4 separate regions of the Homo sapiens genome follow, and regions 2, 3 and 4 are each linked to region 1. The links come from fine-mapping of genetic effects on gene expression. A gene starts in region 1. Each other region holds a variant in brackets. All regions are shown on one strand. Distances are between the middles of the regions. Region 1 holds the start of GBA1 (glucosylceramidase beta 1). Region 2 has its middle 13 kb from the start of KRTCAP2. Region 3 overlaps MUC1 (mucin 1, cell surface associated). Region 4 overlaps HCN3 (hyperpolarization activated cyclic nucleotide gated potassium channel 3).

The links. PIP is the estimated chance that this variant, and not a neighbour inherited with it, causes the effect.
Region 2: its variant is fine-mapped to the expression of GBA1 in whole blood (TOPMed, PIP above 0.99).
Region 3: its variant is fine-mapped to the expression of GBA1 in whole blood (TOPMed, PIP 0.99).
Region 4: its variant is fine-mapped to the expression of GBA1 in blood mononuclear cells (TOPMed, PIP 0.97).

Annotation. Positions count from the first base shown.
Region 1 is chr1:155,239,509-155,242,192 of GRCh38, reverse strand. GBA1 (glucosylceramidase beta 1) reads left to right here and starts at 944. Exons shown (of 11, transcript NM_000157.4): 1 at 944-1,107; 2 at 1,476-1,563; 3 at 2,116-2,307; 4 at 2,431-2,577. The coding sequence starts at 1,081.
Region 2 is chr1:155,158,757-155,161,440 of GRCh38, reverse strand. No RefSeq gene overlaps it. Among named protein-coding and RNA genes, the nearest start is that of KRTCAP2, 13 kb to the left of the region's middle. The variant G/A (reference allele first, on the strand shown) is at 1,169.
Region 3 is chr1:155,186,427-155,189,110 of GRCh38, reverse strand. MUC1 (mucin 1, cell surface associated) reads left to right here. Exons shown (of 12, transcript NM_001371720.2): 7 at 177-948; 8 at 1,048-1,103; 9 at 1,253-1,389; 10 at 1,535-1,656; 11 at 1,737-1,886. Among named protein-coding and RNA genes, the nearest start is that of MUC1, 5.1 kb to the left of the region's middle. The variant G/A (reference allele first, on the strand shown) is at 1,317.
Region 4 is chr1:155,280,354-155,283,037 of GRCh38, reverse strand. HCN3 (hyperpolarization activated cyclic nucleotide gated potassium channel 3) reads right to left here. Exons shown (of 8, transcript NM_020897.3): 2 at 198-627. Among named protein-coding and RNA genes, the nearest start is that of HCN3, 4.2 kb to the right of the region's middle. The variant A/G (reference allele first, on the strand shown) is at 1,579.

The DNA of each region.
Region 1 (2,684 bases):
GGTGCCTACCAAGTGGTCAGGCACTGCACTTACCTCACTGACTGCAGTAACCACCCTTTGAGGTTGTGGCATTGCCTCCATTTTCCAGGCAAGGAAATGGGCTGAGAGCTGGGATTAGTCAGGTCATGACTGTGTGTGCCACTCCCGCTAAATCTCATTTGATGTGGTTCATGAGGCCACACCATGGACAGCTTCCTCCTTGTGTCCACTGAGGATATGGCTTTGTACAACACTTTGGTTTTTGAACGACTTTACAAACCTCCCTGTCTTGTGAGGAAGGAAGAACAGTTATTACCATCTGCATCTGATGATGAAACAAGGGACGCTGCAGAGGAGCCGCACTGACCACTCCCTCCCTCCAGTCCTGTCATCCCACTGCCAGTGTCCCACCCTCTTGTGCCCTGCACTTCACTGGCTAATAACCCCCCTCACTTTTTCCTCTGTGAAGCCATCCTGGATAATTCCCCACCCACGAATGGTCCCTCCTCATCTCAGAGAGCTCTCCATGCACACCTGTTACCGTTTCTGTCTTTATCTGTAAATATCTGTGTGTCTGACTTCCATGCCTCACACACCTCTATAGGGCAAAGACTGTCTTAAACATCTTGGTAGTGTCAGTATTTTGCACAGTGAAGTTTTTTTTTTTAAATTATATCAGCTTTATTTGTACCTTTTTGACATTTCTATCAAAAAAGAAGTGTGCCTGCTGTGGTTCCCATCCTCTGGGATTTAGGAGCCTCTACCCCATTCTCCATGCAAATCTGTGTTCTAGGCTCTTCCTAAAGTTGTCACCCATACATGCCCTCCAGAGTTTTATAGGGCATATAATCTGTAACAGATGAGAGGAAGCCAATTGCCCTTTAGAAATATGGCTGTGATTGCCTCACTTCCTGTGTCATGTGACGCTCCTAGTCATCACATGACCCATCCACATCGGGAAGCCGGAATTACTTGCAGGGCTAACCTAGTGCCTATAGCTAAGGCAGGTACCTGCATCCTTGTTTTTGTTTAGTGGATCCTCTATCCTTCAGAGACTCTGGAACCCCTGTGGTCTTCTCTTCATCTAATGACCCTGAGGGGATGGAGTTTTCAAGTCCTTCCAGAGAGGTAAGAGAGAGAGCTCCCAATCAGCATTGTCACAGTGCTTCTGGAATCCTGGCACTGGAATTTAATGAATGACAGACTCTCTTTGAATCCAGGGCCATCATGGCTCTTTGAGCAAGGCACAGATGGAGGGAGGGGTCGAAGTTGAAATGGGTGGGAAGAGTGGTGGGGAGCATCCTGATTTGGGGTGGGCAGAGAGTTGTCATCAGAAGGGTTGCAGGGAGAGCTGCACCCAGGTTTCTGTGGGCCTTGTCCTAATGAATGTGGGAGACCGGGCCATGGGCACCCAAAGGCAGCTAAGCCCTGCCCAGGAGAGTAGTTGAGGGGTGGAGAGGGGCTTGCTTTTCAGTCATTCCTCATTCTGTCCTCAGGAATGTCCCAAGCCTTTGAGTAGGGTAAGCATCATGGCTGGCAGCCTCACAGGATTGCTTCTACTTCAGGCAGTGTCGTGGGCATCAGGTGAGTGAGTCAAGGCAGTGGGGAGGTAGCACAGAGCCTCCCTTCTGCCTCATAGTCCTTTGGTAGCCTTCCAGTAAGCTGGTGGTAGACTTTTAGTAGGTGCTCAATAAATCCTTTTGAGTGACTGAGACCAACTTTGGGGTGAGGATTTTGTTTTTTTTCTTTTGAAACAGAGTCTTACTCTGTTGCCTGGGCTGGAGTGCAGTGGTGCAATTTTGGCTCATTCCAACCTCTGCCTCCCAGATTCAAGCGATTCTCTTGCTTCAGCTTCCCAGGTAGCTGGGATTACAGGCGGCCACCACTACGCCCAGCTAATTTTTGTATTTTTAGTAGAGACGGGGTTTCACCATGCTGGCAAGGCAGGTCTCAAACTCCTCACCTCAGGTGATCCGCCCACCTCGGCCTCCTAAAGTGCTAGGATTACAGGTGTGAGCCCCTGCGCCCGGCCAAGGGGTGAGGAATTTTGAAACCGTGTTCAGTCTCTCCTAGCAGATGTGTCCATTCTCCATGTCTTCATCAGACCTCACTCTGCTTGTACTCCCTCCCTCCCAGGTGCCCGCCCCTGCATCCCTAAAAGCTTCGGCTACAGCTCGGTGGTGTGTGTCTGCAATGCCACATACTGTGACTCCTTTGACCCCCCGACCTTTCCTGCCCTTGGTACCTTCAGCCGCTATGAGAGTACACGCAGTGGGCGACGGATGGAGCTGAGTATGGGGCCCATCCAGGCTAATCACACGGGCACAGGTAACCATTACACCCCTCACCCCCTGGGCCAGGCTGGGTCCTCCTAGAGGTAAATGGTGTCAGTGATCACCATGGAGTTTCCCGCTGGGTACTGATACCCTTATTCCCTGTGGATGTCCTCAGGCCTGCTACTGACCCTGCAGCCAGAACAGAAGTTCCAGAAAGTGAAGGGATTTGGAGGGGCCATGACAGATGCTGCTGCTCTCAACATCCTTGCCCTGTCACCCCCTGCCCAAAATTTGCTACTTAAATCGTACTTCTCTGAAGAAGGTGAGGAGGAAGGGGACAAGATGACATAGAGCCATTGAAACTTTTCGTTTTTCTTTTCTTTTTTTAAAATTTTTTTGAGGCAGAATCTCACTCTGCCCATTCTGTCG
Region 2 (2,684 bases), 81 kb after region 1:
AAAAAAAAAATTAGCCAGGCATGGTGTCGCAGGCCTGTAATCCTAGCCACTTGGGAGGCTGAGGCAGGAGAATCACTTGAACTGGGGAGGCGGAGGTTGCAGCGAGCTGAGATTGTGTCACTGCACTCCAGCCTGGGCATCAGAGCAAGACTCTGTCTCAAAAAAAAAAAAAAGAGAGAGAGAGAGTGAAAGATTAGTATTTAAATATTTAAATTGGTAGGGTTTAGGTAAAGCAGATTGCCCTCCATCCATGATGTGATTGGGTCTCATCCAGTCAGTTGAAGGTTCAAACAGAACAAACGACTGACCTTCCCTGAGCAAGAGGGAGTTTAGAAGCACGTAGCATTGAGACTTGAACTGAACCTTGACTCTTCTCTGGGTCTTCAGTCTGCCCACAACCCTGCAGATCTTGGATTTACCAGCCTCCATAATGGTGTGAAACAATTCCTTTTTTTTTTTTGGCAGAGATGGGGTCTCACTCTCACTTAGGTTTGAATGCAGTGGCACTGTTATAGGTCATGCAGCCTCACACTTCTGAGCTCAAGTGATCTTCTCATCTCAGCCTCCCGACTAGCTGAGACTACAGGCAAGCACCACCAGGCCCAGCTAATTTTTTATTTTTTATTTTTTTGTAGAGACGGAGTCTTGCTATGTTACCCAGGCTGGTCTCAAACTCCTGGGCTCAAGTGATCCTCCCACCTCGGCCTCCCAAAGTGCTGAGATTACAGGAGTGAGCCACTGTGCCTCTCCCTCTCTTTCTCTTGCCATATACATACACATGGAAAGAGAGAGAGTTCCTGAGGGGCAGCACCAGGATCACACACACACACACACACACACACACACACACCCTATTGGTTCTGATCATCTGGAGAACCCTTGACTAATACACCCTGTTTCAGTAAAATGAAATGGGGTTAAATGAAAGAAAGGCTAATCTGCTCAAGATTATACACAACCGATAAATGAAGGCGGAATTGGAGTTCACATTCAGATCCATCTGTGCCCACCATGTTGCTTAACCAGCATGACTACAGTGCATGGTTACAACACACCATCTGGCTCCTGCCACCTCTCTGATGTCGCCTCCTTGCTCTCTTCCCCACACTCACTCCATCCTGCCCCCAGACCCTGCATGTCCCCTGTGCCAGGCACGTTTCCACCTCGC[G/A]GCCTTTGCACTTGCTGTTCCTGTGCCTGAAACGCTTTCTCAGCAGATATCTACACTTCTCTCTTCTGTATGTCATTCAGGTCTCTGTGCAAATGTCTCCTTCTCAGACAGGCCTTTCTGATCGTGCTATATGACACAGTACAGCCTGTCACCTTCTAGCCCCTTACCTTGCTATACTTTTCTTCATAGTACTTTTCACTACTTGGTGAATATATGTTATTTTTATTTTTAGTAGAGATGAGGTCTATGTTGCCCAGGCTGACCTTGAACTCCGGCCTCAAGTGATCCTCCTGCCTTGGGCTCCCAAAGTGCTGGGATTACAGGTATGAGCCACTGGGCAGGTTTAGTTGGTATATTAAATGTTTATTTTTGTCTTGTCTGTCTCCCATCACTAGAGTATAAGGTTCATTGAAGGCAGAGAATTTGTCTATTTTGTCCACTAGAATGCTGTTTGGCATAGAGTAGGTGTTCAACAAATGTTTATTAAAAGAAGAACCAAGGGCCAGGTGCCGTGGCTCACGTCTGTAATCCCAGCACTTTGGGAGGCTGAGGCGGGCAGATCAGCTGAGGTTGGGAGATCAAGACCAGACTGACCAACACGGAGAAACCCCATCTCTACTAAAAATACAAAATTAGCTGGGTGTGTTGGCACTTGCCTATAATCCCAGCTACTCGGGGGGCTGAGGCAGGAGAATCACTTGAACCTGGGAGGTGGAGTTTGTGGTGAGCCGAGATCGCGCCATTGTACTACAGCCTGGGCAACAAGAGCAAAACTCTGTCTCAAAAAAAAAAAAAAAAGAAGAAGAACCAAGAACCCCATTGGCAACACACCACTCTTGTACTTTGAGCCCTTTGTTGAAACTCAACTTCTACCCTGCATCAACTCCAAATTGCTGAATCCTCAGAATGATCCAGATGTTTTTCTCAGCTGCTCAGACCTGTTCCTGAGTCTGTCCACCTTCAGGCTATCATATTTTCCCATCTTCGTCTCTTGTAGCTTACCTTCTCTAGGAAACCCTGACTCACCCAGCCCCTTCTCCACTACTCCCCTTTTAAAAGTTTGTCTGTGTTTTTGTTAATTGCATGTGCTTTTGTCCTGTTGCCCTATGGAACTGTGGGTGCCCTGAGGGCAGGGATGAAGTCAACACAACCTGACTACCTGAAACCTTCCCCAAGGACCTAGTAATTACCTTGACACCTGTGGACATCCAGAAATCCCTACTGCCTGACAGGCATACAAGGGGGGCTGCCCACCCCTCTAAGGGGTGGGGCCACTACTCAGGGACCAACTTGGTTCACACCGTTCTCCTGCCTCAGCCTCCCAAGTAGATGGGACTACAGGTGCCTGCCACCACGCCCCGCTAATTTTTTGTATTTTTAGTAGAGACGGGGTTTCACCATGTTAGCCAGGATGGTATCAATCTCCTGACCTCGTGATCCACCTGCCTCGGCCTCCCAAAGTGCTGGGATTACAGGTGTGAGCCACCGCACCTGGCGGTTTTATTTGTTCTTATTG
Region 3 (2,684 bases), 53 kb after region 1:
CCTCGGGCTCCACCGACACTCCAGCACACGGTGTCACCTCGGCCCCGGACAACAGACCGGCTCCGGGCTCCACCGCCCCCCCAGCCCACGGTGTCACCTCGGCACCGGACACCAGGCCGGCCCCCGGGCTCCACCGCCCCCCCAGCCCACGGTGTCACCTCGGCCCCGGACACCAGGCCGGCCCCGGGCTCCACCGCCCCCCCAGTCCACGGTGTCACCTCGGCCCCGGACACCAGGCCGGCACCGGGCTCCACCGCCCCCCCAGCCCACGGTGTCACCTCGGCCCCGGACACCAGGCCGGCCCCGGGCTCCACCGCCCCCCCAGCCCACGGTGTCACCTCGGCCCCGGACACCAGGCCGGCCCCGGGCTCCACCGCACCCCCAGCCCACGGTGTCACCTCGGCCCCGGACACCAGGCGGGCCCCGGGCTCCACCCCGGCCCCGGGCTCCACCGCCCCCCCAGCCCACGGTGTCACCTCGGCCCCGGACACCAGGCCGGCCCCGGGCTCCACCGCCCCCCCAGCCCATGGTGTCACCTCGGCCCCGGACAACAGGCCCGCCTTGGGCTCCACCGCCCCTCCAGTCCACAATGTCACCTCGGCCTCAGGCTCTGCATCAGGCTCAGCTTCTACTCTGGTGCACAACGGCACCTCTGCCAGGGCTACCACAACCCCAGCCAGCAAGAGCACTCCATTCTCAATTCCCAGCCACCACTCTGATACTCCTACCACCCTTGCCAGCCATAGCACCAAGACTGATGCCAGTAGCACTCACCATAGCACGGTACCTCCTCTCACCTCCTCCAATCACAGCACTTCTCCCCAGTTGTCTACTGGGGTCTCTTTCTTTTTCCTGTCTTTTCACATTTCAAACCTCCAGTTTAATTCCTCTCTGGAAGATCCCAGCACCGACTACTACCAAGAGCTGCAGAGAGACATTTCTGAAATGGTGAGTATCGGCCTTTCCTTCCCCATGCTCCCCTGAAGCAGCCATCAGAACTGTCCACACCCTTTGCATCAAGCCTGAGTCCTTTCCCTCTCACCCCAGTTTTTGCAGATTTATAAACAAGGGGGTTTTCTGGGCCTCTCCAATATTAAGTTCAGGTACAGTTCTGGGTGTGGACCCAGTGTGGTGGTTGGAGGGTGGGTGGTGGTCATGACCGTAGGGAGGGACTGGTGCACTTAAGGTTGGGGGAAGAGTGCTGAGCCAGAGCTGGGACCCGTGGCTGAAGTGCCCATTTCCCTGTGACCAGGCCAGGATCTGTGGTGGTACAATTGACTCTGGCCTTCCGAGAAGGTACCATCAATGTCCACGAC[G/A]TGGAGACACAGTTCAATCAGTATAAAACGGAAGCAGCCTCTCGATATAACCTGACGATCTCAGACGTCAGCGGTGAGGCTACTTCCCTGGCTGCAGCCCAGCACCATGCCGGGGCCCCTCTCCTTCCAGTGTCTGGGTCCCCGCTCTTTCCTTAGTGCTGGCAGCGGGAGGGGCGCCTCCTCTGGGAGACTGCCCTGACCACTGCTTTTCCTTTTAGTGAGTGATGTGCCATTTCCTTTCTCTGCCCAGTCTGGGGCTGGGGTGCCAGGCTGGGGCATCGCGCTGCTGGTGCTGGTCTGTGTTCTGGTTGCGCTGGCCATTGTCTATCTCATTGCCTTGGTGAGTGCAGTCCCTGGCCCTGATCAGAGCCCCCCGGTAGAAGGCACTCCATGGCCTGCCATAACCTCCTATCTCCCCAGGCTGTCTGTCAGTGCCGCCGAAAGAACTACGGGCAGCTGGACATCTTTCCAGCCCGGGATACCTACCATCCTATGAGCGAGTACCCCACCTACCACACCCATGGGCGCTATGTGCCCCCTAGCAGTACCGATCGTAGCCCCTATGAGAAGGTGAGATTGGGCCCCACAGGCCAGGGGAAGCAGAGGGTTTGGCTGGGCAAGGATTCTGAAGGGGGTACTTGGAAAACCCAAAGAGCTTGGAAGAGGTGAGAAGTGGCGTGAAGTGAGCAGGGGAGGGCCTGGCAAGGATGAGGGGCAGAGGTCAGAGGAGTTTTGGGGGACAGGCCTGGGAGGAGACTATGGAAGAAAGGGGCCCTCAAGAGGGAGTGGCCCCACTGCCAGAATTCCTAAAAGATCATTGGCCGTCCACATTCATGCTGGCTGGCGCTGGCTGAACTGGTGCCACCGTGGCAGTTTTGTTTTGTTTTGCTTTTTTGCACCCAGAGGCAAAATGGGTGGAGCACTATGCCCAGGGGAGCCCTTCCCGAGGAGTCCCAGGGGTGAGCCTCTGTGCCCCTAATCATCTCCTAGGAATGGAGGGTAGACCGAGAAAGGCTGGCATAGGGGGAGGTTTCCCAGGTAGAAGAAGAAGTGTCAGCAGACCAGGTGAGCGTGGGTGCCAGTGGGGTTCTTGGGAGCTTCAAGGAAGCAAGGAACGCTCCCTCCTTCCTCTCCTGGTCTTTCTCTATGGGACCTAGTAAATAATTACTGCAGCCACCTGAGGCTGGAAAACCACTCCAGGTGGGGGAGGAGAGAGTTTAGTTTTCTTGCTCCTATTTTCCTCCTCCTGGAGACCTCCCTCTCTCGGCTTTACAAAGACACAGATACACCCCGCCCCCCAAAACACACACACACACACACACACACCTCCTTAGGCTGGAACAGCAGAGAATGGAGGGACAAGGGGGC
Region 4 (2,684 bases), 41 kb before region 1:
CCTCATTCTGTTCCTGCTTCTCCCCCACCAGTTTTGGAGAGAGCTCACGCACGGAAGCCCCACCCATCTTCCCCACACTATAAGGTCACCAGGAGCCCCACCCATAGCATCTTCCTAGAGAAGTCCACCAGCCGCCCCGCCCCCTTCTCCCCCAACATCCCCCACCCACTGCCCCGCCCGCCATCTCCCCACCCCACCTCCTCCCACTGGTGTATGTAGCGGATGAGGCGGGAGAGGCGGAGCAGCCTCAGCAGGCTTAGGATCTTGGTGAAGCGAACGATGCGTAGGGCCCGTGCCGTTTTGTAGACCTCAGCGTCCAACCGTGGCTCCAGCTCCACCACTAGGAAGATGTAATCCACAGGGATAGAAGAGATGAGGTCAACCAGGAACCAGGTGCGCAGGTAGCGCGTGCGGATGGCCCGCGGTGCCAGCAGGATCTCAGCACCCTCCTCCACCACGATGCCCGTTCGGAAGTTGAGCACCAGATCCAGTAGGAAGAAAGTATCAGACAATACGTTGAAGACGATCCAAGGCGGGGAGTTCTCCTCCTTGAAGAAGGTGATGCCCACAGGCAGGACGATGAGGTTCCCCACCATCAGCAGCAGCATGATCAGGTCCCAGTAAAACCTAAGGTGGGAGTGAGATGAGGAGTAAGACCATGAGGATATTTCACCAGCCACTAGACTGACAGAAGATAGGCTGACATGGCCAAGAATGGGCAAAGATACACAATAACAGAATGACTGTTTACAGCTGTTGGGAGTATAAGTTGGGACCACCATTTGGGAAAATAGTTCAGCATTATCTAGTGAAGTTAAACATTTGCATTCCCTGCAACTCAGCAATCCCATTCCTACGTATAGACACATCCAAGGAAAATATGCGCTCCAGGAGATACACATAGGAATGTTTATAGCAGCATTAAATTTGAGAACAACACACATGTCCTTGTGTAGAAAAATGTAGACAGATAAGTAGATAAATACACTATTTATGGGCTGGCATACCATACAGCTGTGAAATTACCCAACTACAGCTACATTCAGCCCTATGGATGAATTTCACAAATGCAATGCTGAGCAAAAGAAGCAAGAAACAGCCTGGGCAACATAGTGAGACCTCATCTCAACAACAAATAAAAAAAATTAGCCAGGCCAGGTGGTGCACACCTAAAGTCCCAGCTACTCAGGAGGCTGAGGTGTACTCCAGCCTGACTGACAGAGCGAGACCCTGTCTCAAAAGAAAAGCTATGGCTCACGCCTGTAATCCCAGCGCTTTGGGAGGCCAAAGTGGGATCACTTGAGTCCAGGAGTTCAAGACCAGCCTGGGCAACATAGTAAGATCCTATCTCTACAAAAGTTAAAAATTAGGCCAGGCCTGGTGACTCATGCCTGTAATCCCAGCACTTTGGGAGGCTGAGACTGGCGGATCACCTGAGGTCAGGAGTTTGAGACCAATCTGGCCAACATGGCAAAACCTCGTCTCTACAAAAAATACAAAAATTAGCTGGGCATGGTGGCGAGAGCCTGTAACCCCAGCTACTCAGGAGGCTGAGGCAGGAGAATGGCATGAACCCGG[A/G]AGGCAGAGGTTGCAGTGAGCCGAGATCGCACCACTGCTCTCCAACCTGGGTGACAACAGTGAGACTCTGCCTCAAAGAAAAAAAGAAGAAGGCCAGGTGTGGTGGCTCACGCCTGTAATCCCAGCACTTTGGGAGGCCAAGATGGGCAGATCACAAGGTCAAGAGCTCGAGACCATCCTGGCCAACATGGTGAAACCCCGTCTGTACGAAAAATATAAAAATTAGCTGGGCATGGTGGTGCACACCTGTAGTCCCAGCTACTCGGGAGGCTGAGGCAGGAGAATCACTTGAACCCGGGAGGCGGAGGCTGCAGTGAACAGAGATCACGCCACTGTACTCCAGCCTGGGTGACAGAGCGAGACTCCATCTCAAAAAAAAAAAAAAAAAAATTAAAAATTAGCCAGGCGCTGGGTGCGGTGGCTCATATCTGTAATCCCAGCACTTTGAGAGGCCAAGGTGGGCGGATCGCCTGAGGCTGGGAGTTCGAGACCAGCCTGACCAACATGGAGAAACCTCATCTCTACTAAAAATACAAAATTAGCTGGGAGTGGTGGCACATGCCTGTGATCCCAGCTACTCAGGAGGCTGAGGCAGGAGAATCGCTTGAACCTGGGAGGTGGAGGTTGCCATGAGCCGAGATTGCGCCATTGCACTCCAGCCTGGGCAACAAGAGTGAAACTCTGTCTCAAAAAAAAAAAAAAAAAAAAAAAAAAAAAAAAATAGCTGGGCGTGGTGGCTCACGCCTGTAATCCCAGCACTTTGGGAGGCCAAGGTGGGCAGATCACAAGGTCAGGAGATTGAGACCATCCTGGCTAACACGGTGAAACCCCATCTCTACTAAAAAAATACAAAAAATTAGCTGGGCATGGTGGCGGGCGCCCGTAGTCCCAGCTACTCAGGAGGCTGAGGAAGGAGAATGGCGTGAACCCGGGAGGCGGAGCTTGCAGTGAGCCGAGATTGTGCCACTGCACTCCAGCCTGGGCGACAGAGCGAGACTCCGTCTCAAAAAAAAAAAAAAAAAATTAGCCAGGTGTGGTGGCGCGCACCTGTAATCCCAATCCCAGATATTCAGGAGGCCAAGGCAGGAGAATTGCTTGAACCTGGG